Linked DNA regions of Homo sapiens. The protein of the gene in region 2 interacts with the protein of the main gene of each other region in a biochemical or structural test. Each region holds a gene or a part of one and is shown on either strand. Other genes may lie near its edges.

What was found.
Region 1: the proteins of FAM184A (region 2) and LRRK1 form a complex in vitro, tested with the Homo sapiens proteins (one large-scale study listed by BioGRID).

Annotation. Positions count from the first base shown.
Region 1 is NC_000015.10:101,048,065-101,051,878, reverse strand, and holds part of LRRK1 (leucine-rich repeat serine/threonine-protein kinase 1), read right to left. Parts: intron 3,386-3,814; coding exon 3,222-3,385; intron 2,787-3,221; exon of another isoform or gene 2,236-2,786; coding exon 2,096-2,235; intron 1,246-2,095; exon of another isoform or gene 169-1,245; coding exon 1-168.
Region 2 is NC_000006.12:119,019,601-119,023,414, reverse strand, and holds part of FAM184A (protein FAM184A), read left to right. Parts: intron 1-334; coding exon 335-470; intron 471-3,255; coding exon 3,256-3,437; intron 3,438-3,814.

The DNA.
Region 1 (3,814 bases), on a different chromosome or scaffold from region 2:
TGAAGTCCCGCTCGATGGCCGTCAGGACACAGTCTTCCATGTCGAAGTACTGCACATCCTCTGATTTCTCACTGGGGTCCGTGTGCTGGGCCCAGGCTGTCTCGCAGACCGGGCAGGGCACGTACTGCTCCATGAGTGGCGTCCCGTCGCTCTCTGTGGCTGTCAGGGCTAAATAAGGACAGAGCAGGAGACAGCTTCACAAGAAGGTGGTGCAGGAGGGCCCCCCGAGCAGCACTCTGCACCCCAGGCCCTGAGGCCTTCGCAGCAGGGGAGCTGCCTGTCCTGGCCTGTACCCAAGAGACAGGCTGAAACCCACTGCCACATTCGGGTGCCTTTTTGGAGAGCGCAATTGTTTGTCCTGAAAGATGTGTCCAGGGAGGGTTCAGGATGCTTCCGAGAACTGTCCAGTGGTCGGGACACTGAGCAGGCTGGCTGGGGGGCCTGAGAGGAGTGGGGGGATCCCTCCTGCATGACTGGGCCCTAACAGGTCATCGCAGACTAGGTGTGAGCTATCCTCCAACCATCACGGCAGTGGGGAAGGCACCCTTCTTACAATTAGAAACATCAGGTTTACAATGTCCATGAAGGGCAATGCAGGGGCAGAAATGAGTGCAAATTATCATAGACGAAACTCAGTCACCGGACACGGGATTCCCCCACGCCTCTGAGAGGAGGTGCAGAGAAACACCCTCCAAGATGCCCTGTGGAGGTGCCCTCAGGGCCGGCCAACTGCCTGCTTCATGCAAGGTAGGAGGTGGATGCCTAGAACTTTCCAGGCACATCTGATATCTGCAGGTCCATGTGTAAGGCATCCCGTTGGGAGGGGCCCCTGGCTGGGGATGCTGGCTCCAGGCGATCTGTCTCAGGTGCTCACCAGAGCCCTTTCCATCTCAGGTGACTGTCTAAGGGACCCACCTGTCAAACTGCCCAGCACCTGCTGTGTGGGGAACACTGGCTGGTGGGGAGCTGCAAAGTGCCCAGAAGGGTTCACATGGGCCTAAGGGCCCCCTTAGACAGCCAAGTGCCTCCCAAATCACCATGACACGCACACCCAGCTGACTTCTCCGAGGGCTCCTTTCTAAGCCTTTTTTCCTTGTAGGTCACCCTTCCTGCCAACAGTGTGAAGGACCCCAACCCTGACAGAGACCAGACCCTGGGATCTGGAATGTGTATCCTGAGTGCATTCTGCCACTGCCTCTTAGCCACCTTCCCTGATGCTGTCTGGGATGCAGGCATTGCATGCAGGTGAGGCCGGCCCAGGAGGCCGGGGGACCAGCCGAGGCTTGCAGGGGTGGCACTGGAATTCCAAACCCGCTCTCCCACAGCTGCTTGGCCTCCAGCGTTCAGGGGCTGAGGCTCTCGGGCAGCCTGTCCCACAGCTGCTTGGCCTCCAGCGTTCAGGGCTGAAGCTCTCAGGGCAGCCCCTCCCACAGCTGCTTGCCCCATTAAACCCCAGATGGCCTCCCCCTGGCAGGCTGCTCTGGGAGTCGTCTCCACCCCAGGAGCAAAACAAACAGGAGGCCTCAGGAACTTCACTCAAAGAGTACTTTTTTTGGGTGAACTATCAATGAAGAAACAGATCCAAAGGGTCTGAGAAGGGCGGTGTTAGTGGTTTGATCACCGCCGGGATGGGTGGGGTGGCAGGGGAGGAGAGCAAGGCCCCTTGGCTGCCACGGCTCCCCTCCATCCCTGCCCCTGCGCAGGGGATAAATTTCCATCTGCCGGCTCCCCTGCAATTTCAGCCACACAGTCCTCACTATGAAAACAAGACACGTGTGAGCTCACACTGAGCATCTCCGTGGACCACTCGTGGTACCAGTGTCATCTTTCTTGCCACGCCTGTGGGCAGCTGGCAGGCCGCTTCCCTGCACATTCCCAGTGGTGTCCGAGCCCAGTCCTCCCCGTGGGACTCCCCCCAGTGACAGAGCTGGACTTCTCGGGGGCCAGGACTCCCACCAAAGTGCTGTTAAGACCCCCTAGTTTTCTTGGGCTGAATCCCAGTGGGATTTTTGTCCACCCCGAAAGCAGCAGCCCCACCCTGATTCATAAGAAATATTAGCATGAATGAGGGCTTGCTTCTAGCATCTCCTCTTACCGGGAAACCACTGATCAATCAAGGAATTGACGTGGTCCGTGATGAAAGCCATGGCTGAGAAGTCCCTCACTTCTGATTGGCAAACAATTTTCATTCCTCCGCTTTTCTTCTTTTTCCAGTTCACGTCGGAAGATTCCACACTGCAATCCAGAGACCAAAAGGAGCCCATTGCGATCTGGCTCTGGGGGACCCTGGGATGATATCCCTACCCCCAGGGACAGGAACCAACCCCCGGGGACCTGGAGAGACTCTGTGCCCTGCAGGACCGATGGGGGACTCCTCCCTGTATGTACGTGTGCGTGGCCCTGCCTTGTTCTTGCCCCGGACCTGGCCTGGTGAAGGAGGCACGAGGAAGATTGCAGTCAGGGACGCTCAGCCTGGGAGCTGACCCTCAGGTGAGGCCCTAAGGAAGTTCCCAGACCTCCCTGAACCTCAGTATGCTCATCTGTCCAGCAGCAACCCTGGGCCTTAAGTGAGAACATCTATGCGGAAGAGGCAGGTGCCAATCAAGCCCTCTGTAAAGTTACCTCCCCTTTTCCCTTCTTCTCCTCTCACAGAGCTGAAGAATATTTTGCAAAGTTCATTGTAAACATTAAAATAATCTTGGGTGTTTATCATTCGTTAAACCTGTTGGGCTGACTTTAGGTCTACCGCTCTCAAAAAACCAAGAATAAATGGCACAGGGAGCTGAGTTCCGTGTCTGGTTATGGGCAGTGGAGATGGGGGCTGAGGAGTCTCAGCATCCCCTGTCCCCAGCCTGGCTTCTCACAGAACAAGGGGACGGGCAGGATGGCTGCAAGGTCACCATGGTGACCTGAATAACCATGGGAAGTGCCTGAGGCTCTCCTGAGCTCAATGGCCGCCACGTCCCTCAAGTCCTCAGCTGTGGCCGCCACATCTGCCTTTGCCTTTCCCGTCCTGCAAGGGGGGCTCAGCAGGGGTGAGGAGACCGGAGCCTCTGGGACACTCGTGGGAGGGCCTCACATTTCTAGCAAGCTGCCATGACGAGCCGCTCTCACGAGCAAAATTCTGGACACCAAGAGGATGAGGCATCCTGCTGACGTGGCCCCGCGGTGGCTGCTGTGGCACCTGCTGACCTGGCAGGTGGGCTTCCAGGTGTTCCTACCTGAGGTAGCCCCCATCAAAAGTGACCAGGAGCCCTTCCTGCCAATAGATGGTCTGATTTCTTTTCACTCTGAATGTGCTACAGCGATTTCTCTGGTTTCCTGTAAAACTGTAAATGGTGACTTTCCTGTTCCTGCTTTTAGTATTCTTCTTGTTTTCAAAAAGCTGAAAGACAGAGAAAAGACCCTGCTTAAGTATTCTGGGCTCCTCGCTGGCCCTGGGCAGAGCTCTGCAGAGGCCGGGCTGGGCCCCATCTTGATAAATGTCCCCCATCTTTCCCACCCTCTCCTCCCACGCTGCTCATCCCTGCTGCCAAATTGAACGTTACATTAGCTGACGGGGTCTCCAGGGAATTCCGGAAACACAGTTTTTCCAAAGAATTGAAAAATAGGCTTTCCTTTAAAATTTTTTTCCCTTTCTGACTTTACAAGCAAAAATTCATATTAGAAAATGTAGAAAATACAGAAAAATGTAAGAGGGAAAACAAAACACCAATTTAACACCAAGCAGAGAGATCATTCAGATTTTGGTATATATTATTCCAGGATTTTTTTTTTTTCTATCTCCATATGTTTGTGAAAAACAGCTGAAGCC
Region 2 (3,814 bases):
AAACCTGAATTTAATAGGGGTATTGCACAAGTCTGGGGGAAAAAAATGCCGGAAGTCCACAAGTTTTGTTTTGTTGGCTTAGAAAATTTCATAGCCATGTTTTTAATATCTGTGCAACATTAGAATGGATTAGAAAGTGTGGAATAGCCTTTCCTGATTGGGTCATGTTTATGAAAACATCAAGTTATAAATCACTAATACTTACAGATTTAAAAATTGGTATATAGTTTAGTATGACTTCTGAATAAGAGAAAGCTGACCCTTATAATTTAAATGAATTATTTAGCTTAGTATTATTCCTGCATTTTAACAATGGCTATTTAATCTTTCTTAGGTTCTTCAAAAACAGCTTGATGATGCCAAGGAGGGAGAAATGGCCCTATTAAGCAAGCACAAAGAAGTGGAAAGTGAGCTAGCAGCTGCCAGAGAACGTTTACAACAGCAAGCTTCAGATCTTGTCCTCAAAGCTAGTATGTGTGACCACAGTTTTTGATGTAATGCTTAGCTAAAATCAACACTTTATTTATTTATTTTTTTGGAGACAGAGTCTTGCTCTGTCGCCCAGACGGGAGTGCAGTGGCTCAATCTCGGCTCATTGCAACCTCTGCCTCCTGGGTTCAAGCAATTCTCCTGCCTCAGCTTCCTGAGTAGCTGGGACTACAGGTGCCCGCCACCATGCTTGGCTAATTTTTTTGTATTTTTAGTAGAGATGGAGTTTCACCGTGTTGCCCAGGCTGGTCTCGAACTCCTGAGCTCAGGCAGTCTCCCTGCCTCAGCCTCCCAAAGTGCTGGGATTACAGGCATGAGCCACCACGCTCGGCCCCAACACTTAAATGTTAATTTAAGGTAGCATTTATTTTTTCTTCTAACATTTTAAAACTATTTAGACTGTAAATAAGTTAAAGGACTCAATATGTTACTAATTACTTATAAGATACACAAATATTTTTTATTTTTAGGAATATATTTTTATAGAAAACTTGAGAGTTTTCCTTTGTGAGGAAAAATACCAATAGCAGGTAAAATACCAATAAAGTAGTCACTAAAAGAAAAACGGGCTGGGCATGGTGGCTTACACCTATAATCTCAGCACTTTGGGAGGCCAAAGTGGGCAGATCACTTGTGGCCAGAGGTTTGAGACCAGCCTGACCAACGAGGTGAAACCACATCTCTACTAAAAATAACAAAAATTAGCTGGGCATGGTGGTACACACTTGTAATTCCAGCTACTAAGGAGGCTGAGGCATGAGAATTACTTGAACCTGGTGGCAGAGGTTGCAGTGAGCCGAGATTGCGCCAGTGCACTTCAGCCTGAGCAACAGAGCAAGGCTGTATCAAAAAAAAAAAAAAAAAAAAAAAAAGAAAGAACGAAAAATGAAGCACACTTTTCAAGAGGTGTTGTCCTTTAAAAATATACATTTTATTTTATTTTATTTTTTGAGACAAGGTCTTGTTCTGTCACCTAGACTGGAGTGCAGTGGCATGAACACAACTCACTGTAGCCTGGACTTCCTGGGCTCAAGTGATCCTCCCACTTCAGCTTCCTGAGTAGCTGGGACCACAGGCATGCACCACCTTGGCTGGCTAATTTTTTAATTTTTTGTAAAGACGGGGTCTTGCCATGTTGCCTAGGGTGACCTCAAACTCCTGGGCTCTAGCAGTTCTCCCACCTTGGCCTCCCAAAGTGCTGGGATTTCAGGTGTGAGCCACCATGCCAGCATTTATTTAGTTTTTAGAGATGGGATCTTGTTCTGTTGCTCAGGCTTGAGTGCAGTGGCCTGATCATAGCTCACTGCAGCCTAAAACTCCTGGGCTTAAGTAATCCTCTTGCCTTAGCCTTCCCAGTAGCTGGGACTCTAGGTATGCCACGGGCTAACTTTTTTAAAGATGAGGTCTCACTGAAAAAATACACATTTTAAAGTGCTCAAATTAGTTGAAGTTTGTAAATTACAGCAGTTCATTTCTTAGGGCTTGTTACTAAGGTTCATTTTTACATACTAAAGCTGACTTGCCTATTTCTCAAGTGGCTGGTATGCTTTTTCACAACCATTACTGGAGGAAGTGGGTGACTTGTGTCAGTTCTGAAGTTATATTTTGTCTAAGTGTTTAGTGTGCCCAGGAAGGCTGTTTGAGCTGGTTCTTTGAGGATCTCATTTGATTTTGATTGGCTTATCAGTGAATCTCAGATTTTCCTTCCTCTAAAATAGTTGTTTTTAATAGCCTTTAGTGCACATTGGAGTGACCTGAAGGGTTTGTGAAACTACAGATGCTGGGCCCCACCCTCAGAGTTTCTGATTCACTTTTAGGTCTGGGGTGGGTCACATTTCTAACCAGAGTTCCCAGGTGATGCTGGTGATGCTGGTCCTGGGTACTTTGAGAACCTCTGCCTTAAACTATCCTTTCTATGAGACCTTTTTCTTCACTCACTTTTCATCTCTCTGTCTCTCCTCATTTTTCTCCACCTTCCCTGCTTTTTGCTGTCATTTAAGAGATTCTTTCATAACCTTGCTGTCTTTATCTGTGTCTTACATCACCTTAGTTGTTGGTTGGTTGGTTGTTTTTATTTGGAGATGAGGTCTCGCTATGTTGCAGGACATAGTGCAGTGGCTGTTACAGGTGCAGTCATAGCTCACTGCAACCTTGAACTCCTGGGCTCAAACAATCCTCCCATCTCAACCTCCCAAGTAGCTGGAACTACAAGCTCCACTTTAGGTCTTTATCTGGCCTCTTGCCTGAAACAAATTCAATTTCAACCAAACTGCTATCTGCCATCTTTGTTTCCTACATACAAACTTCTTCCTTTTTATGTTAGAATTTGAAAATAAATTAGAAAAGAACGAATCACTCATTTTGGCGCCACAGTGTCAGTCAGTGCATCCTCTCCGTCCTTCTTTTATTCCCAGGAGACTTTCTTATGAAGCCTACTGAGGAGTTGCGCCTACTTCAACCTGTTTAGCTTGCAATCTTAAAAAAACAAAAACAAAAACAAAAAAAACCAGTAAAACGGTACGAGGTGCAGGAAGCAACATTAATCATGTGAAAATGACGTTTTAATTTAAATTATTCTAGTGCGCTAAGAAGTATTTTCATGTAAATATTTCCATTTTATGTAGTGAAGAAACAAAAGGAAAATTTGTACATGTAGACCATTTATTTTACTTAAGTATAAAGTACAGTTGTGTTATTAAATGTAAACTGTTTATCTCATAGTACAACTGATTTTTAAATTGAAGGGATTTTCTTTTTGGGGGATAGGTCATATTGGAATGCTTCAAGCAACTCAAATGACCCAGGAAGTTACAATTAAAGATTTAGAATCAGAAAAATCGAGAGTCAATGAGAGATTATCTCAACTTGAAGAGGAAAGAGCTTTTTTGCGAAGCAAAACCCAAAGTCTGGATGAAGAGCAGAAGCAACAGATTCTAGAACTGGAGAAGGTAAAAAGTAATGGACACTCCATTCCCCCCGAAAGAGTTCCGTTTTTCTCTTTTTCACATTTGAAGTATTTGGAGTATTTCTTGCTACTCCCCAGTAACAATACATTTCCTACTTTAGTAGTTATTTTTGGTTCTAATTTTGAGGAAATGGGTATATAGCTAGACTATCCTATGCTGTATGTATGTTCAAAATATGTGGGTAACAATCTATATAATATAAAAACTTTAAGACATTTCAACCTATTTCAAGCCAGAAATTGAATAAACTCTTATTTCAGTGGAGTGTATACTTATAATCATTATTCGTTTTCTATTAATGAAATATATTACTGCATATCCATGTAGGAAATTTCTGTAGAACTGAAAATATGACAAGC